4 separate regions of the Homo sapiens genome follow, and regions 1, 3 and 4 are each linked to region 2. The links come from fine-mapping of genetic effects on gene expression. A gene starts in region 2. Each other region holds a variant in brackets. All regions are shown on one strand. Distances are between the middles of the regions. Region 1 overlaps LOC105373228 (a long non-coding RNA gene). Region 2 holds the start of GREM2 (gremlin 2, DAN family BMP antagonist). Region 3 has its middle 40 kb from the start of GREM2. Region 4 overlaps GREM2 (gremlin 2, DAN family BMP antagonist).

Evidence for each region.
Region 1: its variant is fine-mapped to the expression of GREM2 in whole blood (TOPMed, PIP above 0.99). The same link has a PIP of 0.9 or more in blood mononuclear cells.
Region 3: its variant is fine-mapped to the expression of GREM2 in whole blood (TOPMed, PIP 0.94).
Region 4: its variant is fine-mapped to the expression of GREM2 in anterior cingulate cortex (GTEx, PIP 0.94).

The regions. Positions count from the first base shown.
Region 1 is chr1:240,684,857-240,692,499 of GRCh38, reverse strand. LOC105373228 (a long non-coding RNA gene) reads left to right here. Exons shown (of 4, transcript XR_949320.2): 2 at 4,349-4,535; 3 at 5,725-5,866; 4 at 6,747-6,817. Among named protein-coding and RNA genes, the nearest start is that of GREM2, 77 kb to the right of the region's middle. RefSeq lists a silencer at 77-371. The variant T/C (reference allele first, on the strand shown) is at 3,721.
Region 2 is chr1:240,608,004-240,615,646 of GRCh38, reverse strand. It overlaps GREM2 (gremlin 2, DAN family BMP antagonist), which reads left to right and starts at 3,492. Exons shown (of 2, transcript NM_022469.4): 1 at 3,492-3,763.
Region 3 is chr1:240,648,009-240,655,651 of GRCh38, reverse strand. It overlaps the pseudogene RNU5F-8P and the pseudogene LOC100128958. Among named protein-coding and RNA genes, the nearest start is that of GREM2, 40 kb to the right of the region's middle. The variant C/A (reference allele first, on the strand shown) is at 2,776.
Region 4 is chr1:240,533,083-240,540,725 of GRCh38, reverse strand. The region is part of intron 1 of GREM2 (gremlin 2, DAN family BMP antagonist); the gene reads left to right. Among named protein-coding and RNA genes, the nearest start is that of GREM2, 75 kb to the left of the region's middle. The variant T/C (reference allele first, on the strand shown) is at 4,212.

The sequences.
Region 1 (7,643 bases), 77 kb before region 2:
GAAAGTATATTCTACGTCCTGAAAAATCACTGTGGTTCATTCACGCTGGGAAAGGTGGCCGCTTTTCTGACATGAATCCGTAGCTGCATTATCATGGGGGTTTCCTGGGTAAAGAGGAGGCTGCCGGTCTCTTGCTTCCCCCACTTTTCCATTTTTTCCTCTTTTGCAGCCAGCCATGGTCCCATGCTTGCTAGCAACAGAAAGTACAGCAGATGGCAGCAAGCAGCTGCTGCATTTTCCAAACCTTGGTCAGCAACTGTTTTCAAGCCAGCACAAGGCAGGTTGAATGGAGGCAAAGATGGATGTGGATTTGTTAAGAGTCCCCCGTCCTCCATCTCTTGTTCTGTCTCTACCTTTCTGCCCTGCCCAGTGATGAGCAAACACCTCATTTCACAGAAGCAGAGCAAACTGGAAACAAGAGGAGGAGACAAAAGCTGGGGCTTGGCGGGACACACTGAACTGGACTCAAGCCTGAAGTGACCTAGTCAGGCGTGGTATCGATGTCGTGGCAGATCTTCCTTGGCCTCCGTGGGCTGTTGAGCAATTTCTTGGACCCACATCTGTGAATGCTAATCCAACACCAAACAATATTTTGCAGAATTATTCCATCCACTTTGCAACTTCCAGCTTTGTAGGGGCTTCACGGGGGCTGCAGGTAGCAGGAAAGACCTGAGGGTGAACTGCGTTGTGCTGAGAGATAAGCCTGGATTTTACCAATTCAGGCTTGGCAGACCACATCAGAGCTGTCAAAAGGCTATGAACTGCTCTGAGCTCCTGCCTTTAAACTTGCCCTGTTTAGTTCAGCTCAGAAGCCTGGAATTTGTGAAGGTAAACAATTCTTATCCCATGGATAAACTGGATAATGCAATTTAAAATACAGACGTATATTCTTCAGACAAACGTAACCGCCCTGACATTAATGGGGCCATTTATCTATGTTGAAGTCAGTAAGCCATAAGCACTGTCAGTGATGTGGGGATTTGGGGATTTGATTAGTTTTGGGTTTCCAGTGGCTTAACAGGAACAGAGGGTGCGAGGTGAGGTAGCTGGTCTTATCTTCTTGAGTTATTAGATAACTTGTGTTCTTTCTCCTTTGTGCTAAAACCTAAAAGGTAAATTTGTTCTTTTGTGTTTTCCATAATTCAACAGATTGTTAACCTGGTTTATTTTTCATAACCAGCAAATTGTACCTATGCTGATCATTCAGTTTTGTGGTCAAATATTACAAAGCTGGGTTATGTAAGCTTATATTTTTCATGAAATCAGCCCTATAAGAAATTAGGATTACAGGTCCTAACACTTTTTTCTTTTTGAAACGGAGTCTCGCTTTGTCGCCCAGGCTGGAGTGCGGTGGTGGGATCTCAGCTCACTGCAAGCTCCGCCTCCTGGGTTCACACCATTCTCCTGCCTCAGCCTCCCAAGTAGCTGGGACTACAGGTGCCCGCCACCACGCCCGGCTAAAGTTTTATATTTTTAGTAGAGTTTCACTGTGTTAGCCAGGATGGTCTCGATCTCCTGACCTCGTGATCCGCCCGCCTCAGCCTCCCAAAGTGCTGGGATTACAGGTGTGAGCCTCCGTGCCCAGCCTACAGGTCCTAACACTTTAACTTCCAGAGTTCAAGATTATTAAAGTAACTTCAATACTGGACGGCATTTGTAAGCTTTACGTGCTCCCAGCTGGTTCGTTGACATGGAGTTCAGACTTGCATGCAATCACCCTTGACTATCTTTGGCTGTCCTTTCTCAGAAACAGGGCAATCATCTTAACAAAAACCTGGCCAATAGATTTCCAAATGTTGCGTTCATAGAAAGAACACTGGTTTTGAGAAAAACTTTCACATGTATTTTCTTTTCCCTTCTCTCTCTTTTTTTTTTTTTCAGACAGGGTCTCGCAGTGTTGCATAGGCTGGAGTTCAGCGGCATGCTCACGGCTCACTGCAGCCTTGACCTCTTGGGCTCAAGAGCTCAAGCAGTCCTCCCATCTCAGCCTCCCAAGTAGCTGGAACCACAGGCACATGCCACCACACCCAACTAATTTTTGTATTTTTAGTAGAGGCAGGGTTTCGCCATGTGTCTCAGGCTGGTCTCAAATTCCTGGGCTCAAGGGATCTGCCTACCTCAGCAACCCAAAACACTGGGTTTACAGGCATGAGCCGCCGTGCCCTGCCTCAAATGTATTTTCAAGTGGAGCAAAGTTAAGGGGCTCACAGTCACTTGAAGTTTTAGCAAAACTTGGGAGTAAGCGAGAATGTTCTCTTAAGCAACTGTTCTGCCTCATTGGTGGGATGAGCCATTTGGCTGCCTCTGGTTTCCCACTAGCAAACAGTAACTGATTGGGAAGATGAACAGGATTAGCTAAATGATTAATCTCCATCTGCTCTAATACATAAATTATGAAATCATACTCATCATACCAATTTTTGCCAATTCAAAATGTGAACCCATTGGCAAAAAAAAAAAAAAAAAAGGAAAAGAAAAATTTCCAGTCACCGAGAGATGTTCCACTGTAGTCTTTCAAAATGTTTTTAAAACAGTTTGAAAAATCTTACTTTCAAAGTTTGAATTTTATCCCAGTCCATTGTCCTCCTGCCCGACTGTTGACAAATCATCACCACAGGGGATCTGGTGAGAAAAACATGGGTGGCCCTAGGCTGGTATCTGGCCAAATCAAGTATACATTTGGCGAATATGGCCAGACTGTAGGCTACCTAGGTGGCTTTGTGGTCTCATGTGATCAAAGTCGGGGATAGATTAAGGAGACTAGATCTTTCTTTAGTAGATGGAATATAGCAATTCCAATTACTGACATCCTAAAAGCTTCTCTGGAGATGCAGAGCAAATTCTCTATACATTTAATGTTTTCTACATTAAAGGATATTTTGCTTCCACAACTGAAGTGAATTATGGAAACAAAACCTCCTTTAAGATAAGCCTGAAATTATCATTGTATTTGACAATGGGAGGAAAAAAGCTGAGACGTTTTCAGAATCTACCAGCAATGCATCCCCCAGAGAATACACAATTTGCATGAATCCCCCTGAGCTAGGGAAGCTGAGGATATCTGAAAGAGAAGGGGGAAAATGTATTTTAAAAGCTTCCCAGAAACAGATTAAGAGTTAAGAAAAAGAAAAATCCTGTTAACAACTGGAATGGGCAGACACCGCTCTGCCAGCCTTAAAAGAGTCAGATGAGAGGCCAGACACGGATTTCTGCTTTTCCGAAAGTCACCCAGACATAGACAAGGATAAAGTAAAAACGAGAAATGTAGAACAACATGATCCCTTTATTTTGATAATTTAGAAAATAAAAAGAAATGATTGCAGTGTAGGCAAGCAGCAGAGGCCTAAAACTTCAATACTTTACATGGAAAAGGAGACTGGAGGTGTTTGAAGAAAAAGCAATTTCAATTGCAGTGGCTTTTAACCTTTTGGGAGCATTGAATTGCCTTGAGAATCTGGAAAATGCTATGCATCCTCTTCCCCCGAATACAAATGCATGATTTTCCATTCCATTCATGAAATTTCACTCATAATTATTTTGCACGTATGACAGGTTAATAACTCTTACACAGAATAGAGTTTCTGGCTTTGTTTTGTTTTGTTTTTCATCTTTTTGTTTGGTTTGTTTGGTAATGAGTTTTGCAAACCTTGGGAAGGTAGTGTGAGGCAAGGTTATTGGTGAGGGAAGGTGATTAACTGTGTTCTAAATAAATAGTAGTTA[T/C]GGTGAATCATTTCCCTCCCATCCTACCTCAAAGAAAAAATTTGGATAAATAAAATATGTACGAAATTACAATGACATACCAAGAATGGTGAATTCTTAATGCTCCTCAATGTAAACTGGCATGTAAACACATGGACATTTTTCTTGCATCTCTACTTATTGGTTATATTTGTTTCAATCATTAAGATCTTTGAGACTGGGCGCGATGGCTCATGCCTGTAATCCCAGCACTTTGGGAGGCTGAGGCGGGCGGATCACCTGAGGTAGGGAGTTCAAGACCAGCCTAACCAACATGGAGAAACCCTGTCTCTACTAAAAATACAGACTAGCCGGGCGTGGTGGCGCATGACTGTAATCCCAGCTACTAAGGAGGCTGAGGCAGGAGAATTGCTTGAACCTGGGAGGTGGAGGTTGTAGTGAGCCGAGATTGTGCCATTGCACTCCAGCCTGGGCAACAAGAGTGAAACTCCATCTCAAAAAAAAAAAAAAAAAAAAAAGATCCTTGAAAAGCATCATATCATTCATTGTGTCTTTCTTATGTCTTTTACTTAAGACAGTTACCTGGTGTGGCATGACACAATATCTCCCAGCCTCTAAAATATTATTTCTCAATCATATTTTGCCATAGGAATGATCTTGTCTGGTCACATTCCAGAAGCAGGAGGAAAAAAAAATAGCATTTCTGAAGCCAATGAGTGCCAGTCACTTGAAGATGGTAATCTGAACAGGAAGAGCACTGTGACTTACTACTGTCCTTCAGAGAAAAAGGAAGAGGTGCACGTCACAGACGGGAAGTCAGTGAACCAGAGGCAAAGGTACTGAAACTTTATTTGGCAAATATGAAACATCCGTTGTGCCAAGAGCACAGATCCAGTTTTTGCAAGATGCAAATTTCATGGCAAACAACAAAAGCCTGAAGAACCACTTAGCTAATAACTGACTTCGTACTCAGCATCCCTTTTCTGTTTTTCTGCTGTGACAGGCCTTTATTGAAAGCCAGAATATATAGATCAGTCAAAACCTCAGAACAAAAAGGTAGTGGGCCTGAGCTCAGAATGTCAGGCAATTAATGCACTAGTGTTGGCATCAGCCTCCAAATCCTTGAAAATATAAAATACTTGAACACTCGTCTCTCTTATGAATGAGTTCCCCATCATATATTGGTTTCCTTAATGAAGATCAGAAAGGAGTTTCGGAAAATGATATGCTTAGCCAATTTAACACCAGCTGTTTGATTCTCCAAGTTTCCTTACCCTAAATGACTTTACAACAAAGTCAAGTAGAAACGCCGCTGAACAATCCTGTCATCCTTTCCTCACCCTGGCCGAATGAGGCTTTTTTTGGATTGCAAAAATTGATTAAAATTAAAAGACATCGTTTAATTAATCTTCTGTGCCATGAGACTCCATCAGGCTGTCTACAAAGACCACTGGGAGGCTGAGGATCACTTGAGCCCAGGAGTTTGAGGCTATAGTGAGCCTCAAAGGGTCTCTGCACTGCAGCCTGGGTGACAGAGCGAGACCTGTCACACACACACACACACACACACACACACACAAAGACTTTTAGCCACATTTCCAGATTTCAATGTAAATGGTACTTGGGGAATGCTTTTTGACCCAAGAAAGGAAACTAGGTCTGAGTGTTTATCGTTTGTAGATTGGTGAATAGATTCAGAAAAGCTAATAACACAAATTTGAGAGTGGCATTTTGTGGGCATAGATTTCACATTAAAACTGAGACCAAAAGACTAGTGTCTGTTATCTTGACATTTTGTGGAGTTAAAACTAAGGACAAAGGCTGTTTAGAGAGCACAGCGGTGATCTGTACTTATGAAATTTAGTGACCCTCAGTTGCTTGGCAAAACTACAAAAAAAAATTGTGACCTGCTTTTTATACAGGTGAATAAACAATTCAGGTATCAAACAATGAACCCCTTGATTTCAAAGGACAGTGATGTGTTTGACGATAAGAGACAATTCCTATAATTCTTTTGTATTCCAGTGAAGTTTATAGCATGAACGACTTGTTTTTTTGGTACAATCCTGTACATTAATTGTTACCAGCACGTATCTCGGAGCTCCTGTCCACACAATAGTCATTACTAACACCTGAGTTGATCTGCACAAGGGCACGGATTACACGGGTAAGTGAAATAGCATCCACATTCATCACCGATTTCAGTTATGTCTAAGAATATAGGATCAAATTTTTATGTTCAGACTATAATCAAAAAATATTTCTAGAGGATACTTTGTTACTATACAGGTGTGATAGTAATCAGATTATCTAATGACTATAGGAAGAATTGTGCTTTCAAATTAAGGAACTGGCCTGGGTGTCATGGCCCACGCCTGTAATCCCAGCCCTTTGGGAGGCCAGAGTAGGAAGATCGCTTGAGACCAGGAGTTTGAGGCCAGCCTTGGCAACATAGCAGGACCTCGTCTCTATTTCTAAAAAAATAATTTTTATATACATATTTTATATATATTATATATATTTTTATAATATATATATTTTTAAATTTAGGGACTGGCCCTTAATTTAGCAGTGATGTCATATAAGGGAACAAAAATCACATCATTTGAAGTAGCATAAGAAAAAAAATGGCTCTGCTACTGTTTATAGGAACATTATATATGAGTGTATATATAATATTTAAAAAACATATTAAAATAATGTTTTACGTCTGTAAGTACAGTATATGTTGCTATATGTTATATATATGCACACATATATACAGATTATATTACATGTATATATGTATACATAATATATAATCATGTTATCTGTATATATACATGAAATTATATTATATATAATTTTATCACTGCATTACTTATATCTTGGCAAAATTTTATTGAAATATAACTCACACAAAGTGCATAAATGCTAAGTGCAATACAGAGTTCAGTGAATTTTACAAAGTGAATGCCTCTGTGAAACCACCCCCCAGATCAAGACATAGAATATTAATAACACCTTCAAAACCTTTCTCATGTCTATTCACCTTTACTACCCTATAGAAAAAGACAAGTGTTCCCACATTTTCTATTACCTGGAGAAGATTCTTCCTTAAATGTTAGAAGAATTGGTGAGTAAAAAAATCTGGGCCTAGAATTTTGTCGGGGGAGGGATGGGAGTAGTTTGTGGAAAGGTTTGTCAGATTTTATTTTTCTTCTTATTTTGATTTTATTAAATAATCCTTTTTATTTGAAGAAGTGTGTCCATTTGACAATAACTCTTTAAATTTTGGTGTAAGCTGCTCATTAGATTCTTTTATTAACTGCTTTAATATCTGTAGGTTTTGTGGTAAATCTGTCAATTTGTGTTTTTCTATTTTTATGATATCAGTTTTTCTAGTAATTTATATCTTATTAGAATTTTCAAAGTCAACTTTGGCTTTATTGATTTTCTTTTTATTATGTTTGCTGTTTGATATCTGCTGTTAGCATTATTTCATTTCTTATTTTTCTTTGGGTTTAATTTGCTATCCTTTTTCTAGCTTATTTGATGAATATTAGACTTTTTTTTTTTTTTTTGAGACAGTCTTGCTCTGTTGTCCATGCTGGAATGCAATGGCGTGATCTCGGCTCACTGCAACCTCCACCTCCTAGGGTCAATCAATTCTTCTGCCTCAGCCTCCCAAGTAGCTGGGAATACAGGCACCCACCACCACACCTGGCTAATTTTTGTATTTTTAGTAGAGACCAGGTTTCACCATATTGGCCCAGCTGGTCTCGAACTCCTGACCTTGTGATCCACCCATCACGGCCTCCCAAAGTGCTGGGATTACAGGTGTGAGCCATGGCACCTGGCTGAATATTAGACATTTTGTAGATCTTTTTTCTTTTCTAATATGTGCATATATATTTCACTCTAGGCCTTCAGATGCATCCCTTACATTAAGTACCATTTCTCGT
Region 2 (7,643 bases):
AGCTATTAAGATAAATAAAGAGATAACCAAGGGGAAAACATTAGCATTAGAATGGCGTCCAACCTAGGCTAGAAAGAAAACACATGAATAGGTACAGACAAGATCAAGAATGTGATCTTACGCTTATCACACTGGGAATGCAATGTCAGTCTTCGGCAAACTAGTCATATGGAAATCTTGTATCTTTGTATAGTAGAGGAAGAATTATAAGCTCTTCTACTTTTTCTTTTTTTTTTTTTTTTTACTTTTTTTCTTATTACAAATTATACATATTCATCATAGAACACACAGATATGTCAAAAGAAGGGTAAAAGACCATCTGCGGTCATCTATAGTTCAGAAATATACTTAGATCGTAATCATAATCTTTTAAAAAATTTAATGGCATACTATGAAAATTATTCAATAAAATTGTAAATTATTCTGTAATATAGTAAAAGCCAATAATAGCATCAAAGATGATTTCGAGCTGAAGTAAACCCTAGGTTACTTAGTCTGACCTTTATAACAATCCCTTCATAATCTCTGCAAATGACTGTGAGTACTTTTCTTGACCACTTCATTGACCTATATCAAAATCTCCAAATCATCACTTTGCCAGGAAATTCTTTCAATTTCCGAAAGCTTTAATTTTGAGAAGTCTTTTGCTATCCTGATTTTTGCCTACCCTTATTTTCTCTCCAGAACAGCACTGGGTTTCGGGTCCACTTCAACTTATTCCCATCCTCTGGCATCGTAACTGTGACTACATCAGGGTGACTTTACTATACAAACTCTTTTAATCTCTAAAATTAGCCTAGTAGCATTTATCTTACATTCCTCATAGAGTTGTTTAAAAAAATCAAGAAAGAAAATGTTTATAAAAATGACAATACATTTGAAGCATTATCTGAATAATAAACATATTTCCTCTTTTACCTTTACTGTTTGAAAATGTTATCATTTTCACCTCAGTTCCTACTCCAAGATGCCTGATTCTCTCTTGCATCTCTTATAAATTATAATATTCAGAATCATCATCTTATCAACTCCTTTGGATACATGCCAATTTGTGAATATCTCCTGTAAAAAGTGCCACACTGAACTAAGCAGGATGATCCTGATGTGGCTGAATAAGTGGAAAATAAAATGATTGTTCTGTCATGAATCTGCCCGGCTGTCCGCTGCTGTGCATGCTGAGATGCAAGCGTTTTTATTATTACGGATGTCTGTGTCATTTATAAAGGATTTAAGAAATGTCTTTGAAAAACTCTTTTAAAGGTAGCAAAATGACGAAAAGACTAAATATAGAATAATAAACACTGACGATTTATTTTCCCTTAACCACACAACTGATGGGGTATAGATGTCCTTTAAATCATCCAGTTTTGCTCTTCATTAACTGAAGGACAGAGGGCTTGAATTATTATCTAAAATGAAGTTTAAGATAGATCTGTGACTTTAAGTCACCCATGATTTCACTTACACTGTCTTTTCAGTGCTATGAAGAGCTATAATGAGCCCTGAAAATAACAAGCACAAAATACAATGATCTACTTGGTTTTCTCAGTAACTGTTTCTCTCTTTTCTAGAAAGGCAATTCGAAGGCAAATTATTGGTAACTTATCTGAAAATAACATGACCCGTTCTGAAATAACATAAATGACTATTTACCAAGTTGGACAGATGATTTCATGAATTGTTAGCTCTTCTGTGCAAAGGCAGGCAGGAATGAGAGTCAGCTGTGTTAACCCTTTGCTTTCCTTTGAGTCAAACAGTTTGTATGAACAAACAGGGCAGTCATCCACTCTCCCAGCTCTATTTGCTGTCTGCCTTCAGCAAGTCACTTTATCATTCCTCCACTCTGTTTCTCCACCTGGAAAATCTGGAATATCATACCTATAACTCCTTTTTTTTTCGAAGACTGTTGAGATCTTTAGAAGAAATACATTCTACACTTTCAAAGATTTATGACAGTATTTTGTTTTTAGCTGCCTACCTAAAGAAAGGGAATGAACTGGAGTTGTTGAAGCAATAAGGATATGCCATTTGAGGTTAGACTGTGGTTAGCAGGAACCAACTGCTAAACGTGGTTTTGTTTTGTATTTCCTTTGTCAATTTCAGCTGATTTCAGGCAGGCCCATTCTGAGAATAAGGCTGCATTTCACAATTCCTGTAATGTGCCCACGTAAGAAAGAAGGCAGGTAGTCTGTTTGGTGATAGTATATTTCAAGAACTAATTGTTATTTCCTGTGAATTTGCAACCCAATGTGCTGTGAGTTGAGTTGGAACTAGAATATCAAATACCAAATAGCATACAAAAGGGATAACACTGCAAAAAAAAAATTCAAGTCAAAAATCAAAACAGAGCTCAGAGATTTCAGAAGCAATGGCTTCTTGTCAAGAATAACTGTCATTAAAATTTCCATAAGCACCAGTGAAATTGATTTTGGGGAAAAGTCTAAGGGAGGGTCTGTTTTATAAGACACACTGAAACTTTATTTTATTCTGAATTTCCCCAGCCAAGTTTGTAAGATCTCAGATTTTTCTTGGGCCCTTTCCCTGCCAAGGGGCCAAAGGTTTATCTCTATTGACACATACAGATAAAAAATTTTCATCCAGGAACCTCTATCAGCAGAGTCTGAATAGTCGTCTTTGGCTGGTGAATCACACTAAGGGAGTCTCAGTCCTGAGATGATCAGTGGTGAGAAGTTCAAAAAATAATGAAAAGAGCAAGCACTTAGGCGTCACAATACGCTTCTGGTATAACGCACCAAGCCGATGGAGCACAAGAATTGGTCTGGCGTCATTGTTTTATGTTCTCTGGATGTTGAAGAGTCTGATTTGCATTAGAAACCTCTGCATTCAATAAACAAAAATCAGGATAATAATGACCAAAGTACTATTTGGAACAGAAAACAAATTCAAGCAATGGGTGTTTTGCACTGAATTCATTCAAGATTTTATTAGTTAAGCTCTCACTTAGGTTATTAGGCTCAGCTTGCTTTTTATTTCACTGGCCTCAGTTACTGCAAACAAAAGGAGCCTGGTGTGTGTGTGTGTGTGTGTGTGTGTGTGTGTGTAAGCGCACGTGTATGAGAATGTCAGACATATCACACACAGGCTTTCTACATTCTTCACATTGGAAACCCATCAGCAAAAGGAAGAAGATCTGAAGGGAATGAGTGTTTTTTTTTTGTTTTTTGTTTTTTTCTGGTTTAGGGGATGGAGGGAGAATTTCTCTACATAAACAAGAAGGTTAGAATTGGAAGTCTGCTAAAAAAAATGTTAGAGCTGACCACAGGGTTGTAAATCCACTGACTGGAAGGAGGAAAAGAGAAACATTGCAAGCGACTGAAGTGTGTGGTGTGGCTGCAATGTTTGTGGGTTAGATGAGAAACAAGCGCTGAGTGAAACAGAGAAGGGGGGTGGCTGGTGTGATTTGTTTGGTGTTCAGAGCCAATAGAAATCCCAGACTCTGATAATATCCCCATGCAGCGCCGAGAGGATTCAGAGCTAAGTCTCCGGGCTCCTTTCACATCTGCAGGAGCAGCCAGCCTGGGACCGCGCGGCGCGGGGCGCGCTCTCGCCTCTCCTGCACCCTCAGCCGGCGCGCTTCTCTTATGGGCGTCTGCTGCAGTCTGGCTGCGGTCGAACTGAAAGCGGCGGCGGGAGACCAAACTTAGACCCCGCTGTGGACTAGAGAACTCAGAGAAGGCAGAGGGAGAGGGAGAGAGAGAGAGAGAAGGGACCCGAGGAGGAGGCTTCCATCACGTCATTGCAGGTACGCAGCTTGTCACGACTAACGTGACACAGACACGGTTTCTGATTTCTACCTTCACCAGGCACTTAGAATGAATTGACGTTGTTTGTTCCGTGGCTGGTCAGGACCGAAAGCCCTGAGTGGACGTCTCGCCGGTTTCACCCCGGGTAATTCAAGCTGTTGGCGTGTGTCTGGGGGCCACAAGGTTTATTCACCTATTGAATTATGCGTGGGTGTAACATAAGGACCTTCAAACTTGACCGTGATCGCTCTTTCTTTCTCTTTTAAATAACGTCAATACCAATATGTTGTCATCCCACCAATAAATACCTCTTGGTGACCGCCATTCTAATCATGACTATAGCGAGGCAAACACCATCCAATTGTTAGAAAGCGGGCTACGAACCTCTCCCACCTACCTACCAGGTTAATATCCTCCCTACAGGAATAGGAACCACAGCGGACTTCGGCAGAGTTTTGATTTTTTAAAGCATATGGCCAAGGTGCACCCGCCTCATGAGGGAAATATCACTATTATCACTACGCTGTGGTTGAAGGAGAAGAGAGAAGGGAGGTAGTTATTTTTTAACGTGATTGTCAGTGATCCTTCCTGTGTACCTGACTTATTTCTACATTGTCTTACGAGTTTAAAAATGCATTTGTATTCTGCACGCCAGGCACGTTCAGTTCCAGGATCTCACATATTACTACATTAAAAAGTCATGAATTGGAACTATCTAGTAGATGTGATAGTTGTAAGAAAATATTGATGTTTGATTTTATTTTATTTGATCCTAAAACTCATAAACTTCTATTTCTTTTTTTTTTTTATTTTGAGGTGTGGGTTTTGTTAAAAAAATCTATTTCCTGAGATTTTATCATGTTTGATTTGAAATTTTAAAGATAGTTATATAACTCCCCACCCCTTGATGACTTGTGATTAAATTAGCATTGCTTAATGAGTTCAGTCTTTCCTGGGAAAAGCCAGAGGGGACTGCAAGAAGTCAGTTAAAAAATTGGTCTTGCTTTGCAGTCTTCAAGGGCTGGCTGGTATTCATGTGGCTCTGAATCCCTATGAAAAGCGCTTTTTCTGCAGTGGAACAGATTGGGACTCCAGTACAGCCAGAGAATGGCTCTGCAGCAGGTGCAGGGGCAATCAAATACCTTACCTTTCGTCTAAACAGCACTCTTCCCAGTGGAGTCTTAGTCGATCATATCCAAACCATTCACTGATAATTCGCAATCGACTCACCATTCAGCCGTGCTTAGCTTTCAAGGTAGCCTTTGTCCCAAGACATGTGCCCGACCAAGGAAGATAAGAAAGTTATAAGAAAGGTATTTGTGTTGTATATCACAGTGGAGAATTTATATCGACCTTTTTTTGTTTGTTTGTTTTTTGTTTCTTATCAGATGAACATGTTCTTTCTGTCATTAAAGGAAATGCATGCTTAGCTCTACCATAGAGTCAGGAAAACTTCATAGTTTTTGCCCATCGACTGATCTGAATGATTTAACTGGGTGCTTTTTGAAATCGTGTCAAAGTATAGACATGGCAAGTGAATATTATATTTGGGAGAAGGCATTTTAACTTTATAGATAAATTTTTTTTCCTTTTACATCAGAAAGAAACTGTAAAGAACTGATCTGTGCAAATAAATATAAGTTAATCGACCCAACTACATTCTATTGGTAAAGAGTTGTTTTGTATGATTGTGAGCATTTGTCAATCTTTTATAAATAAAATAGCTGCAATAAGTTGGGACCTATTTCTGTCTTATCTTTCTAACTCTAAAGCAATGTTGGGTGTGTTGGTAGCAACTTTGTGAGTGTGAGACGGATTATATTCACTTTGTATAGACTAGGAGACACTGATGGCTTTTCAAAGATAAATATAAACAATGCTGTGATTATTCATTGTTTTTTGCTATCATTCTTCACCGAGAGAGGTAATCAACAGTTCATTCTCTATGAATCTTAGTAGAGCCAGCCAGAGCTTTACATACCCTCGAGTTATAAGTTTGGTAAAGTTTAAACAAGGTACATGCCTTTAAATCTCTTTAAAGTAAACATCTCTTTTTCTAATGCAAAGGAATGGTATTAGACTCTCAGTTCTTATTGATATGGAGAGGATTGGCCTGTCTGGGTCAAGGGCAGACACTGAGAGACTGCAGAGGCACAGGCACTCAACAGATTAGTTCAGCCACTTTTGTACTTCAGTGTTGCTACAGCAATTGCCCCTGTGCAACGTGCCAGGTTGCAGGCATGTTCTCAGTATCAGGGTCCTTCAAATATCTACGGACAAAAAAGAATTATTTCAACCAGGGAAAACGTGCCCAGCACTCGGCTTAAATGGGTCACACAAGACATTGTTTTGAAGGACAAGGTGTTCAATTAAAAATTAGACCTATGGTGCCATCTTCTTCTTGGATTAGCTGCTTCTTGATAGTTCTTTTGTTTCTAATAATATTAGGTATAATAGGCCTAATAATGTCTAGAATTAATTTTGATCACATGTCAGGCTAAAATGTGGTCCTCAGACTCAACACTGACCAATGACTTGAGCAGATTTCCCATCACCACCACTTCCAGTTGGAAAGATGTCTTTAAGTGGCCAGCACATTGATGGGACCCAGACGGTGTTGGCGCACTGATTTGTAGAACAGAGTCCCAGAGCCACATGGATGTTAAGGGGATGGAACGTGAGCGGGTGGAAGCACAAGGGTATAAAGTGACATGATATAAAGATTGACATGCTTCAGTATAAATCCTGGAGCCAAAGGAAAATGAAAATGAATGTATTTCCTCTAATTACCTTCAGATATAGATTTTTGATTAGCTTCAAGTATACATTTTTGATGAGACATCCTGAATATTTTAAATAAACTCTCTTGTGTTCTTAGGTATATCCCACACAGGTGTGGGGGGAAAATAAATGCATTTGATGTACTGTAACACTCCTGTCTATACAGGCCAGGAGAGGGCAGCATGCAAACTCTGAAAAAGTGATTTGATACCTCCCCCTGACCATGAGGAAGACTCCGGTCGCCAAATGGCTAAAAAATCTCCCTCCAACTTGAAGTGCCCTCTTCCCTTTGGAGAGCCAACTCTAGAGTCTTAGTAAAGGCACACCATCCAGAAGGGTTTGTTTCTATTTTGGCCTCCAGAATTGGTGCTACCTGGCAAAATCAGAAAAGCAGCAGCATATTTCACAGTGAACTCAATTTCCCTTTCTTTTAATTAGCTTTACCCTTTGAGCCTATTCAAGCAGGGGAACACTTGACCAGCTCCTATGAAATGCTAAGTTGACTTCGTCTAGAACAAACATTGTCTGCATTAAAAATATTATTCAACCTGGCTCTATAGGTGTGACTGTAAAGGCTGAGAGGAAGCTAATCTTATCATCTATGGAAAACTAGCTGCTTCTCTCTGCTTTTATGCAATTATAACACGAACCCTGGATAATGCATTGTATTTTCTAATTATGGTAGCTACGTTTTGGGAAAGTTGATGGATGTGTGACATTGTACTTAGAGTTAATAAAAATCCAGCAGCTCTGTAATGAGATTTCTCTGCCTTTGCTAGGAATTTAAATCTCATCAGCATTTCAAACGATCTTTACTTTTCTCTTATTGATAATGTTTAAAAATTAAGATTGTTCTAACATTTGTTGAATGCATACCATGTGCCAGATTAGAGTAGACACATCTCACAGATTATTTAATTCAGTCTTCACCACAGTCTCAGGAGTTTATCTTCTGCAAGTTTTACTGAGAATTTCTTGTAACCGTAACATCTGATAGCTGAGAACATATTCCTTCAGTCAGTCAGTCCTACAGGCATGCATTCAACAGATATCTATTGAGTCTCTTTGTATAATTATAAGATAATAACAATTAATCAT
Region 3 (7,643 bases), 40 kb before region 2:
TCACATGGTGAAACCCTGTCTCTACTAAAAATACAAAAAATTAGCCGAGCGTGGTGGTGGGCGCCTGCAGTACCAGCTACTTGGGAGGCTGAAGCAAGAGAATGGCGTGAACCTGGGAGGCTGAGCTTGCAGTGAGACGAGATTGTGCCACTGTACTCCAGCCTGGGTGACAGAGCAAGACTCCGTCTCAAAAAAACAAAAAAAGAAACAATAAAAGGAAAAAGAAATGGTTACCAAACTTAAATAGCATTTCAAGAGCAAAATAAAGTTAATGAAGGGTGGAACAACATGCAAATCTGAAACTACCTATATTGTGTATCTCTAGTGCATTTGTTCTCTAGTGTCCATCTGTGTACCCTACAGCTAGTTGGCTCAAGAAGCAGATACTTTCAGATGAAATTTTCCCAGAGCAGAAAAAAAATTAAAAACCTTAGTTGGACCATCGATTGCTGGAGTCAGAAGTAGACCCGCAGTTGCTCCTCAATCTTGCTTTGCACACTGGCAATGTCTCACCCACTCCCAACATCCCAACTCCTCTGTCCTGGGGCTCGTTCCCATGGTACATTATATTCTTTTACACCAGGAGCATCCTACAGAGAGTTGCCTACCTAAGAAGCGGCAGCCTGATGCTGATGAAAATCCAGCTATGGCTCACAACTGAATAAACTGTTTATCTGTTCCTGTTGTGTGATACAGTCACTACATACTCTAGAAAATAATCTCTCTCTCTCTCTTTCTTTTTTTTTTTTAGGCCCATGACATAGTTTTACTGCAGCTCCAATCTGACTCTACCCTACTCACACTCTATTCTCAGGGGTTTGGGGAAGACCACCCCACTAGGGGCCCTGTCCCCACCAGAGCTTGGACATGGGATCTCTCTCAAGCAGGGGACTTTGTCCTTCTTGGAGGCTTCCTGTCTCTCTCAGGACTGTACGTGCTCTGAGCTGGGCTCGGCTGACACTTGGCTGTTCCTTCAGTCTTGGCCCTGAGGCCATGACAATCCGGGAAGTTCCGGCTGTCCATGTCAGTGGGGCCTGGGGATGTGGCAGTCCACGTAGAAGTTCCTGGCGTTCTAGGGCAGACTGAATTCTGCCCCTTCCAGCTCCAGCATCAGCACGATCTGCCAGCCCAGCAGGGAGTTCTCCTGGAGGAGGGAGGCCATGTCTAGCATGCTGTCTTCCCTCTCTTCGGGAGGAGGCAGAAGGTCCAGGTCTTCGCTCACATGCACATGGCAGGTGGAGCATGCCAGGAAGGCTTCACAGGCACCTTCCAGGTTCACCCCATGGCATTGGGTCAGGTGGAGAATATTGTCCTCCGACTCTGCAGCTCACTGGATCCGCCAGCCTGACAGGTCTACAAACACCACGTTCACCACATCCCTGGGCATGTCAGCCTGTCTCCTGAAATGTCCTGGTTGTCACTGGCGCCTACGCCTCCCTGGACCCTAAAGAGCTCCTGGGTATGTTACACAAGGTGTCCCTGGCAGCCCACAGCAGAACCCTGGCACTCATTCTTCCCCGGCCCTCGGAGGCGGCCATGACAGGTGTCGGGTGAACCAGTCAGACAATTATCTCTCTTATCTTTCATCATGGCTCACCAAAAGGGAATTTTTTCTCAAAGTATATATCCAGTTTTTTATGTCTGACCATTATAAATAAATCTTCCAAATTTGATGAAAAAGTTATCTAGTCGTTTTCAAGTTAAATCATAATCACAAAAAAAGAAAAAAATAGAGCAAAACATGATGTCATTTACATAGATCGGGAGTCTGCAAATTAGAGCCATGGTTCAAATTCAGCCCATTGCCTGTTTTTATAAATAAAGTTGTTTTTTTTTGTTTTGTTTTGTTTTGTTTTTTTTTGAGACAGAGTCTTGCTCTGTTACACAGGCTGGAGTACAGTAGAGCAATCTTGGCTCACTGTAATCTCCTCCTCCCAGGTTCAAGCAATTCTCTTGCCTCAGCCCCCCAAGTAGCTGGGATTACAGGCATGTGCCGCCACACCCGGCTAAGTTTTGTATTTTTAGTAGAGACAGGGTTTCGCCATGTTGGCCAGGCTGGTCGTGAACTCCTGACCTCAGGGGATCCACCTGCCTCAGCCTCCCAAAGTGCTGGGATTACAGGCATGAGCCACTGCGCCTGCCCTAAATAAAGTTTTTTTAAAAAACTTTTTATTAGCCCTGCCTAAGCAAGACCTCAAAAAATTTGGTTATCAACTCACACTGTTCCTCTCCATGGAAACTTCTAGTAAATGGCAAAAAACTTATTCATTCTAAAGAATGAGCATATAAATAAAGTTTTATTGGAACACAGCCACACACATTGATTTATGTATTGTCTATGGCTACTTTCACCCTATAATGGCCAAGTTGAGAAGTTGCAGCAGAGATCATATGGCCTTCAAAGCTTAAAATATTTACTATGTGGCCCATTAGAGAATGTTTGCCAACCCCTGATATAAATCAATACTCAAGAATCTTTCAAGTAATTTGATATGTTTTCTCTGCTAGAGTCCCATTTTGTTTCATAGAGACACAGTGCCTTATGTCAACAAAATGTCCCAGTGGTAAGAATTCTTAGAAGAGCAGCTCTTCAGTGAGACTGGTCTTTCTCTTCGGGGACAGTGATATGTTTCTCTGCCTCCTCCGGTGATATCCCTCTAAGCGATGCCTTCTCCCCTTCATGCATCCTTAGCACGACAACGACACTTGCCAAGAGTCCTACGATGCTACTCAGCAATTTCTCTCCCTGCTTACCAGAAAGGAAGAAAGAAATTC[C/A]AGAAAACAAATTAAGAAAGAAAATGTGGGTGGAGGACGGATGACTTACTGGTATCTCCTCCACCCATCCTGTCTCCTGTCCCTACTCCGATCACCAGTGAGACGCCTGAGGTGTGGGAGGGGCTGTCAACAAAAGCGTGAGTGCCTGCAGATGTGGGTGTGTGCCTTTGAAAGTGAGACTGTTGGAGAATGGCCCTGTGCTCAAAGGAGAGAGAATTTGTCCCCCGGGACAGAGAGCATCTGTAGGAAATTACAAACTTGAGGTCACGTGTATTTAAGAGTGAGAAACTCAGTGTGGAAGAGACTTCGACAGAGTGAGTGATAGAGATGTGAATGTACCCAGGACAGTGAGCGTGTGAGACAGTGAAGAAGGCAGGGATGAATATGTGTCCCAGAAAGACACCACATGTGTGACTGTGTGTGTGAACAAACAGAGAAGGAAAATAAATGAAATTCATGAGGAGGGATACAAAATATGGATGAGACTGAGATTCTTTCCAGCAAGAGGGGATTTATACATATATGATGTCACTTTGGTGTGACTACATTGCATGTCAATCCAGTACCACCAACAAGAAATTCAATCTTAATCCGACTCCTCTGGGTTGTAAAGCATAGTAGAAGTGGAAGACAAGATGGTTAACTATCTTGTGAAATCAACTATCTCACAAAATATGTGTTCTTCTAGTGTTTTGTTGAGATTTCGATTCCACCAATTATAATGTATTGTAATCACCAATTAACCACTTATTTCACTTGTATTTCCCACTTCATTCTGGGTCTCCCACACAATGTTTGATGCATGGTTTATAATCATTAAATATTTGCTGAATGAACATATTAATCAGTGAAATAGGTTAGCTCTAAATTGAAAATTACAACTCCTGCCATCGATATGCAGGTAAAAAAGACAGCTGCTCATAGGCTACTTCCGTAATCCCTTCAATGAGACCCAAACTGATAGCAAGGATCATGGTTATTGTCATTGCCACAATTGAAAGACAATGATATATGTGCACCAGTCTTCACTACAATCTTTTTAAACACTTTTTTAAAAAGTTTTGGTATTTAAATAACTTTTTGTTTGTTTGTTGTTGTTGTCGAGACAGGGTCTCCCTGTGTTGGTAGGGCTGGTCTCAAACTCCTGGGCTCAAGCAATCCTCCCACCTCAGCCTCCCAAAGTTCTGGGACTGCAGGCTTGAGTCACCATGCCTGGCGAACATACTCCTAGAACAACAAAGTATTAGAACTGGCTCATGATCAGCCAGGTCCCCAGTTGTGGAGAAAAAGTATTCTCTCTCAGGACCTGAATATCAACCCTTGTGGGAGAAGCTTATGTCTGGAGTTGGATTTCACTCAGATAAGACATGGCAGAGCTGACTATTCCCCAGCAGCAACCCAAGTCTAAGCATTTGCCTCTGCTGTAGCTAAGGGATAGATGGACATTTCTGTTAAGTTGAACTATTCCCCAAAACAGAATAAGCATATCCTGCCCAAAGGGAAGTTCATAACATCAAGACCATCTCAAGGGTTGGATTTGGGTGCAGACAATGAACCTGAGAACCATACAGTTTTAGAGCTTCAAAGCTTCTTAGAGAGAGATGACCAAATGTTCCAGTTTCTCCAGGATAGTCCCAGTTTATGCCTTTTGTCTTGGTGTAATTTCAAAGGCAGCCACTTTCACTCTAGAAAGTTAATTATATGGTCAACCTGCTCAGAAATGATCTAATGCTCACTTTACATAACAGATGCTTGTAACCTGGAGCAGTGAAGTGTCTCACCCAGTCACATAGCTAGTGGGACTGTGTGCCCATTCACTGTGGGATTTTCACCATTGCAAGTGGTAACAAAACTTTTCTTTTTGCAGAAAACTCAGGAGAAAGCCTTCACCTCCCTATCATGTAATTCTCTAATGACATGAATAAAAACAGAAGGAAACTGTCTTAGAGACATTCACTTTCCTAAGGCTTAAACTATGGAAGGATTTCTTCATTCATAAAGGAAATGCATACGTTTAGAGAAAACATTTCAATCGGAAAAAAGGGTCCAGATTCAGGCCTCAAGAGAGGGTTCATGGATCTCTCGCAGGAAGGAATTCAAAGTGAGTTGCAGAGTACAGTGAGAAGAGATAGTTTACTGAAAGCTACTCAGTTACAGAGCGAGAATGTCCTCAGAAAGCAAGACGAGGAATGCACCATCTTTGTTTTAAACTCTTCTTATATAGGGATCTTATCTATGTAAAAGCTAAGCTGTGTCTACATGCGGGTGAGCCGAAAAAATGACATTTATTACTTTGTTGATTTAAAGAAAGTTATCCTTGGCATTTTAGTGCGTAAGTACATCAAAGCATGACTATAGTCACCTTAAAAGCACATATCGTTTTGCAATATTGGGACATCTGGGCATTTTGTTGTCACAGGAGTTTGTCCTTGCAGGCGTTATTAAGCTGTTTCCTTGGTGGTAAACATCTTACGGCCGTGGGTCGTGACTGGCAAGGAATGCGTCTTACTAGTTTTAAGATGGAATTGATTTGAAAATGATGTCACCCTGGCTCTCCTATGTCCCTGTTTCCCTAACAATTCCACCATCATATTGGCCTCATCTCAAGTACAACTCAAAATCCTTGATTGTGGGTATACCGAGGGGTGGTGAATTTCAGCTTACGCTTACGCTGCTGGGTAAAGTCCAGCCAGGATTGTGCCTATTCCTGGCATGGGGATAGGAGATGGGTGTTGTGGCTACAAGGTCAGCACTAATTTGCTGACATATGATGAATCTGTACACTGCATTAGACATTAGACATTTATGGACATTTAAAAAAGTATTTGTATAAAACACTTTCCATTCCTTGCTACATAATGTTTTGGATCCTAAAACAACTCAGTGCAGAGGTCAAATTTTGGAGTTCAGCAAAGGCTGCAGTAATCTTACGCAATACATGGGACCTTCACTGACGAAAGAGCTATTGGGTAATTTCATGATATGATGACCTACCTCTCACGTACCCAATCTGTCACCTCCTCTCTTCCCTCTCTGTCCTACCTTGGCTCAGGCTTTGTCACTTTTTATATGGTTGTCACTTGGCTCCATTCTAATGCACCCTGGAGACCACTACAATCTCTGTTACTTACTAGATGAAAAATCCTTTAATAATTCTCCATTGTCTATAAGATGAAAGTCAGGCCGGATGTAACGGCTCAAACCTGTAATCCTAGCTTTTTGGGAGGACAAGGCAGGAGCTGAAAAGTCCGAGACCGGCCTGGGCAACAGGGCAAAACCCTGTCTCTACAAAAAATACAAAAATTAGCCAGCGTGGTGGCACACTCCTGTGGCCCCAGCTATTCAGGAGGCTGATTGGGGGGATCCCTTCACCCTGGGAGTTCAAGGCTGCAGTGAGCCATATTGCGTCACTGTGCTCTAGCCTGGGCAACAGAGGAGACCCTTTTTCAAAAGAAAAAAACTGAAGAAATGAATATGTGAAAGAGTGAATTAATTCATGAAAGAATAAAACTCATAGCATGGTGCAATGAAAGCTGGCGGTTATTGTACCTGCCTATCCACAAAGCTTTCTCATGGCTTACAGAGTAGGAATGTGACACAGGGATGGCCAATCAAAATGCCCCTTTCCCATCGTCATGTGATTCAACTAGGGTGGTCTGTGACTGAAGCCACAGAAATCAGATCTCCACCCTTGTATTTTTTCTTTTTTTTTTTTGAGACAAAGTTTTGCTCTTGTTGCCCAGGCTGGAGTGCAATGCCACAATCTTGGCTCACTGCAACCTCTGCCTCCCATGTTCAAGCGATTCTCCTGCCTCAGCCTCCCGAGTAGCTGGGATTACAGGCATGTGCCACCACGCCTGGCTAATTTTGTATTTTTAGTGAGACAGGGTTTCTCCATGTTGGTCAGGCTGTTCTCGAACTCCCGACCTCAGGTGATCCACCCGCCTCAGTCTCCCAAAGTGCTGGGATTACAGGCGTGAGCCACCGCACCCGGCCTGCCCTTGTATTTTTTGTTTGGAGCTGTACAAGAGGCAATTTCGCCTCTGAAATCACAATAACAGAGGACTATAAAGTTGGGGCTGTCTGGTGAGTTGACTTATAGTTACAGCACTTTAGGGGGCCAAGGTGGGAGGATCGCTTGAGCTCAGGAGTTTGAGACAAGCCTGGGCAACATAGTGAGACTTTGTCTCAAATAAAATATAAACTAATAAAATATTAAAAATAAAACAAACAAAATAAAAAAGGTGGGGCTACAGGCAAAGACTTGCATATTAGAAGAGAATACAAATAAGCAAAGGAAAGAAAGTAAAAGAAATAGATGGCAGTTTGGAGTATGAGAGCCACTGAATCCCTATTACACCCTCTCTCAGGGTTCTCTTGATACCTTGAACTGCCTCAGTGTGTGCCAAGCTAAATGATTCTCCCCTCCCCTTACTTTCCTAAAGCTTGAGAGTTTCTGTTTTGTTTTGTTTTGTTTTCCCGAAGGATGCTAAGTCATTAGTTTTATCTTTACCCACTACAAACTAATGAGTCCTGTTTAATACTACTGCCATTCTGGTCTTTTCTTAGACACTCTTGTCCACTTTGCAAAATTTCCTCCTGTTACTTCCCAATGTAAAAGCTCTACTGGAACAAACAGGCCTGAGTGTATCCTTGAGTCACCTTCCAGCTCTGTTCTTTGTTCTTTCTTGATCCACCTTCTGGGAATGTTCTTCCACTGTATCCCCTCTATTCCACTAATGACAAAACTACCCATTCTTCAAGACTGAGTTCAAATTTCACTTCCTTCTGAAGCCTTTCCAGCTCACTCAAGCCAGAAATAATCACTCTTTATTAAACGCTATAACCAGCATCATTTCTGTCTTTTC
Region 4 (7,643 bases), 75 kb after region 2:
CTGGGCGTGGTGATGCATGCCTGTAGTCCCAGCTACTCAGGAGGCTGAGGCAGGAGAATCTCTTGAACCCAGGAGGCAGAGGTTGCTGTAAGTCTACATCGTGCCACTGCACTCCAAACTGGCGACAGAGTGAGACTCCATCTCAAAAAAAAAAAAAAGAAGTACCATTCTTCTTTTGACTTACATGCTGTTTGTGTTCTTTGCTGTTAATGGTAGTGATTCCAGTCTTACTAGAACACAATCTCTCAGTTCAGTTTTAAATCAATATGTGCTCTAGGAAACAGCCCATTCAAGGACAAATCCCCTGATCCTGTTTTGTTTGTTTTCTTGGTCCTAGCCATGTTTTTCTCCCTTCTTCACTTGGCAGCAATTGAAGGACTCACGATGTTCCTTTATGCCCCCTTTTGGAGAAGGAGCTCTTCAATGCAATAAGTTAGTCTAGACAAAGAAAATTAGGGCAATTAGTAGAAAGCTAGCAAATGTGCTGTGTAGGAGGCTCTGTCATTACGGACCCTCACTCAGGCTCCTGTGGTTTGGTGTGTGTACAGAATGATAGTTCTGGGTTTCCTCTCTGCAGAGAGGAATAAAATAATACTAGGTTTCAATTAAAGACATAACTGCAATTTAGTCAGGGGTATAGGAACAGAGTGGCTGTCAGCTATGCCAAGCTAATGTCATAAGACAGAAAATCTCAGCACATAGCAAGGGATCCTGAGGCATCTGAGTTACCGCAGCCCTCATACTCAATAAGACACCAAGACTAGCAATTAGAATGCAGACAGAACAAATATTTACATTTTGAGAAAACAAAAGAGGAGGCATCAACAACAGAATGAATCAAAAGCCACAAGGTCTCAGATGTGGGCAAGCAAAGTGTTGCTGTCAGTGTGAAGCAGGAAGGCAGAATTGGTTTCCAGTATTTGCAATTCAGAGATGTAGATTACTGGAAAATTTACAATAACATTGCAGTTTAAAATCTCCACTTCATCCGTGTTACCCAGAGTTGAACATGAGGAGTCAATTGCCCTTTTCCTCCTTCTACCTACTATTAGCTCCAAGTCATTTCTTCATGTGTATATGGATTATGAGTTCCAGAGAGCCTGGATACGTTATTTCGAGGCTTTCAAAGTCCCAGAAATGCTTATGCATTTTAAAAACTGTATTTCAACTCAGAAATCTCTTTTGTTAAGAAGCCTGATGTTCTGAATGATCAGAGGGTATAGTAAAATCTAATAACAGAAGAAAAATTAGGGCTCTGGGAAGGGGCTGTCCAGGAAGGGAAAGAGATGTGTGGCTCCCCTCTCATCTCAAAGTAGTAGGTACACATTTTCCTCTTTTGTTTAATTTTAGATGGGTCACTCATGCAAGCTCATGGAGTGGATCCTGAGTAGGGGATAAAATCCTGGCTGGTTGGGCACATCATAGCAAAGAGACTTGTCACCACCAGGAAGACCACAAGCCAGCCATTATAACTGCAGCGAGGCAGGGTTTTGACCAATTTGGCATGTGTAGGGCTTTTATAAGAAATCCATAAGGGATGGTAAGTAAGAATGGAATGATGGGGGCCTGGCTAGTGAGGAAAAGTTGCTCAGTGCACAAGGCTTGGCTTTAACATGGCAAATGATGCTGACTTTCCCCTTCCTAATGTCTCTAATTCTGAAATTCTATAAGCATGAGATGGTGTCTCAGCCCTTTTTGATCTACATCAACCCATGGTGGATGTCTGCCATGTACTTGGCATCAGTACTTGGGAAAATGACTTGGCTGCCAATTATCTGATGCTGTTATTTCATTTCTAAAATGCAATATCTAGAAATTGTTCATTTGAGAGACATTTCAAAGCATTTGTAGCCAATGTGCCAAGTTTCTGATTCATTTTGGGAGAGACACCCACACGTAGTATTTCACTCAATTTAATATTTTGTAAATAATTGGTATTAGTCGAGTACATACAGTTTACCAAACATGGTTCTAAAAAGTTTTTTGTTGTTTGTTTGTTTGTTTTTGACAGTATCTGGCTATGTCGCCCAGGCTGGAGGGTAGTGAGTGGCACGATCTTGGCTCACTGCAACCTCCGCCTCCTGAACTCAAGTGATCCTCCCACCTCAGTCTCCCAAGTCGCTGGGACTATAGGCACACACCACCATGCCTGGTTAATTTTTGTATTATTATTATTATTTTTTTTTGGAGAGACAAAGGTCTCACTATGTTGCCCAGGCTGGTCTCAAACTCCTGAGCTCAAGTGATTCACCCACCTCCACTTGCCAAAGTGCTGGGATTACAGGCGTGAGCCATCGCACCTGGCCTCTAGAAAGTCTTTACATGTCTTTAATACAAATGCAGGCAGGTGAAATCACTGGATGATTCCATGGTGTTTTAAACCTTTTCCCAGGTTACTGAAAGGGTTGGCATTGTTAGAGAAGCAATCAATCACGAAGGAGCTAAGAAGAAAGTTTAAAAAGGGTAAAAAGTGTGAGTCAAGACAAAGCCACCAGTCATAGCATTTGAGGGGTGCATCTAACCTGAACTCCTGAACGTTTTAGGTTAGCTTATAGATAATAAGAGTAACTAAATTTAAGATCAGCGTGGTCAAGAAATTTTGCTTTCTAGACAATCCTACTTTGACTTGTTCCTCTATTTATTGACTGTCATTACTTTGAATTCTATTGTTTCAAACATGAAATTTAACGAGCTTCAGTGTTTCTTTAGTTTTAATAAAGCAAAACTCGGGTTTTTTAAATGGGCATGGCATTCTGCCAATCATTTTCAGGGTTCAAGATCTGAAGCAAGGTTCTACAGGACATTATGAAAGTTATTGTTTAAATAATGGATATTTTGCATGGTATGTATGATTAATATATTATATTTGTATAAAAGAGTAATATACCTTCACTTTTTGCAGGGCTTACTCAGTGTTTTTGTTTGTTTGTTTGTTTGTTTTTGAGACAGAGCCTTGCCATATTGCCAGGCTGGAGTGCAGTGGCGCCATCTCGGCTCACTGCAACCTCCGCCTCCTGGATTCAAGTGATTCTCCTGCCTCAGCCTCCCGAGTAGCTGGGATTACAGGCACGCGCCACCATGCTCGGCTAACTTTTGTATTTTTAGTAGACATGGGGTTTCACCATGTTGGCCAGGATGGTCTTGATCTCTTGACCTCAGGTGATCCACCCACCTCGGCCTCCCAAAGTGCTGGGATTACAGCCACCGTGCCCGGCCTGAACTCCTTTTGTTGTTTCTTTAGGCATCAACTCCTTTCCCCCTCTTTTTTTGTCAGTGCTGTTTTTTGCATCTACTACACTTCTTAAGTGTCCATCTCTGTGTTCTCTGGGTAGACAACTTCAGAGAACAGAGAGGCTACCAGGCAGGAATTCCTTGCTCCTTAAAACTCATCTCCCTCCACAACTAACTATATTTTTCTCTTTATTTTCTATCTCAAAGAAAGATAACTAATTTTGTCCAGCATTTTCTTTCCTTCCTCTACTTTTACATTTCCCCTATATTTTGCTTTTGTTTATTTAGTTATTTGTTTGCTCACAGTGTTTAAATATATTCAAATAGCTTCCATTTCAAGTTTAAAATTTTTAAAGGTAAAGGAAGGGAGGCAAGGAGGCTACAGGTCTATTCTGGCTTCTGGGGAAAAAAATCTGTATTTAATTTATCTTACTACAGCACAACTAAAAGTGCTTTCACTAATGTATCTAAGTCTTAGGAATTAATTGGTCATTCCAGTTTATCTTCTTTAGTATGTCAGCATCTCACTTTGGTCAGAATTTAGTTGCTTAGTATTCTTGCTTTGCTTGGATTCTGTGGTACTCCTCCTTCCAAACCTCCCTGTCTTCTTTGAAGGTTTGTTATCTTCTGTTCAGCCCAAATAGCAGTTTTCTTCAAGATCCAACATTTGCCTCTTTTAAATCTCACATTATGCATCAGAGACCTTATCCCCATGCACGTAGCTACCGATGGCTTCCAGATCTACAGCCCCCACTGCCATTTTGTCTTAAACTCTACAGATGGCTTCCAGATCTACAGCCCCCGCTGCCATTTTGTCTTAAACTCTACAGATGGCTTCCAGATCTACAGCCCCCGCTGCCATTTTGTCTTAAACTCTACAGATGGCTTCCAGATCTACAGCCCCCGCTGCCATTTTGTCTTAAACTCCTGACCCATATTTTTCACATGTCATGTTTCCCCATCCGAGGAACAATTACCAA[T/C]CCCCCTCTTGGACTGAGAAAATCAAATTGCCCAGGTATGAATAGCAACTGCTTATCCCTCTTCATACCAATTTACCCTTCCATCCCTGCACATTTTCTTTAGGGTTAGAGACAAATTAACCATTGGCCAATTCAAGGTCACTGCATCCCCCTGTGTGCTTGGCTGCATGACCCTTTCTTCCCATTTAATTATCAGACCTTACTTCAGGATTTGTTATATTCCCTTACTCATATGTTTTAAACCTCACACTTTCAGCTATGTGTTCGTCCTTAGCTTTAAAAATATATTTAAATATATCCCATCCAAATAAGTAAGTGAATGAATAATACATTATCTCCATTGGAGCTGCCTTCCTTCTAACTGCCATAATTGAGGGCTTTTTTTCTTAATCAAATTTCTTGAAATTGAAGGTACTGTGGTTCCAGTTCCTCTTGTCTTACCAGTCTTCAGCTCCTTGCAAGTTGGCTTCTGTGACACCTGCTCCAGTGAAACCTGCTTGCAGTCAGGTCCTACGTGTTCCCAAACTCAGAGGGCTCACTTCAGTCTTTATCTTACTCCACTTGACTCAGCTGACACTGGCTCATTCCCTACTTCTTGGGATCGTCTTTCTGTTGGTTTTCATGGGAGACTTGACTAGGCTTGTCTTTCTCTCTTTTTACTCAGGGTATCTGGTATAAATATTTCTTTCTCTTTTTTCTTTCTTTTTTTTTTTTTTGCGATGGAGTCTCCCTTTATCATCTAGGCTGGAGTGCAATGGCACAATCTCGGCTCACTGCAACCTCCACCTCCCAGGTTCAAGCAATTCTCCTGCCTCAGCCTCCTGAGTAACTGGGATTACAGGCATGCACCGTGACACCTGGCTAATTCTTGTATTTTTAGTAGAGACAGGGTTTCACCAGTTGGCCAGGTTGGTCTCAAACTCCTGACCTCAAGTGATCCCCCTGCCTCGGCCTCCCAAAATGTGGGGATTACAGGCATGAGCCACTGTGCCTGGCCAATATTTCTTTCTCACATTCGTCCTTTAAACATTGGTTTACCAAGGATGTCATTCTTGGCTTTTTAAAATTTTTTTTCACAATCTCTCCTTTGTACTATCTTTCTTCTTTACAAACTCAAAGAAATGTTGTAGTTAAAAAACAAAAACAAACACAAAACTGGTTTTGAGAACCTGAACAAAGCTCAGCTCTCCACTCACTTTTACTAACAACACAACTATGGATAAGTTGCATAATCTCTTTAAGTATTAGTTATCACCTCTGTAAAGGGAAGTGTTCATATCAACTCAGATTGTTATCGTGGGTATAATGGATATAACATACACAGTAATGTAAAGTATTACTCAATGCCTATACTAAGTGCTCACAACTATAATTTTATTATTATTGTCTTTATAATTATATTTAACTAATAGCTCTATGTTATAGACTCAAATCTATCATCTTACACAGAGTCCTCTCTTGGAGTTCAGATTTATATAATAACTACTAGATGTCTCTACTCAGATATACCTCAATGATCAACATACAGAAACAGACAGATCATCTCTCCCTTCCTCTCCAGACCCACTCGTCCTGCTGTGTTTCTTCCCTCAGTTGGTAGCTAAGTATCTGGCGTCACCAAATTTTCGAAACCCAAAGGTTCTAGCTTCCTCAACATGTTTCTGTCCCTTCTTCCCGCCCATACACCAATGCCTTGTTCAGGCCCTCACTTTTTCCTACCAGGGTGATTGCAGTAGCCTCCTAACTAGTCTCCTGCATTTTAGCTTTTCCTCATTTCAGTTCATCTTCCATAGTATTGCATTTTTTTTTTTTTTTTTTTTTTGAGATGGAGTCTCGCTCTGTCGCCCAGGCTGGAGTGCAGTGGCAAGATCTCAGCTCACTGCAAGCTCCACTTCCTGGGTTCAAGTGATTCTCCTGCCTCAGCCTCCCGGAGTAGCTGGGACTACAGGCGCCCGCCACCATGCCCAGCTAATTTTTTTTTGTATTTTTAGTAGAGACAGGGTTTCACCGTGTTAGCCAGGATGGTCTCAATCTCCTGACCTCGTGATCTGCCCGCCTCAGCCTCCCAAAGTGCTGGGATTACAGGCGTGAGCCACTGCACCCGGCCTTTTGCACTCTCTTAACTGCAGATGTGATGTCTCTCTTAGAGCAGAACCCTTTCAGGGTTCCTCATAATTGACATAAAATCCAATCTATTGAGTAGCACATATGTAGATTTCTCCATGACCTTGTCCCTGCCTTCCCTTTTATGTTTCAGTGAAAACTGATTGTTTTTCTCACATTTTGTATGCTCTATTTTTTTGCTCATGCTGTCCTCCTCCCTGAGATGCCTCACACCTCTCTTCCTGAATTGTCCATCATCTGCACTTTCTTCAAGATCTTTCTCAGGTTTGTCCCTGCTTCCTTATTCAACACCATAAGGTTAAGCTAATTTCAATTTCAGGACTAGCCCATTCATAACTATTTTGGTGCATTTTCCACGTTTGATTCAAGTTATCTGTTTGCAACTCTGCCTTTCCAACAAATACATATCAACCAAAAGTAGCACCAGGTCTTACCTTACATATTTAATAGTAGTAACATTTTTCCATGTGAACTAAACGTCACAGGCAACTCAAAAATGACATGCTCCTGATGGAATTGAGGCTCTCGTCACAATCGTCCCCTCTTTCTGTAGACTAGTTTCCCAATAATGGAAGCAGTCACCATCCATTCTATCAGCCAAATCAGAAACCCTGGAGGCACAGCCAATGGTATCTCAATATCTGTTCAACCACCAAAATCCTTTCTGTCTTGCCCACCCATCCTCCAAATATCTCTCAGATCCAACTGCTCCTCTATCCCAATTGTTGATTCTTTCTTTGACTTTGTGGGAGGCTGTGTGTACTGCTAGATGCCAATCACTTTGTCCTACTTCTACACAGAGCCACCTACTCCCCTTGTCCCAGTTGTGCCTCCTCAGTGCTTCTGATGGGACTTTCTTATTACATAAATATATTATGCTTAAAATTCTCAAAGGACTCCCTCGTTTCTTCAGGATAGAGTTCTATAACATTAGCATGAGATACCAAGGGCTTCTCAACTGTAGAGTTTTCCAGATTCAGCTCCAAGTATTTATCATGCCTTGTGTGCTTTAGCTACAGAGACCTACTTTCAATTCTCAGAACATGCAATGCCCTCACAGACCGCTAAACTGATCTGTTCTCTTTGGCTAGAATGCCTTTCCTTTTCCCAACCTTTTCACAGCTAGCTCATTTCTATTAGTTCTTTAAGGGCCAATTCAGATATTCCTCCACTTTTCATTATTCTCATAGGAAGTGATTTTCATTTTCCCAGTCTCTACTCCCAGATCCCCCTTCTTCACACCTCAGGCATACCTGTCTCATACATCTCATAATGCTGACTACATTGTGTTCCTTTTCCTGTCCAACT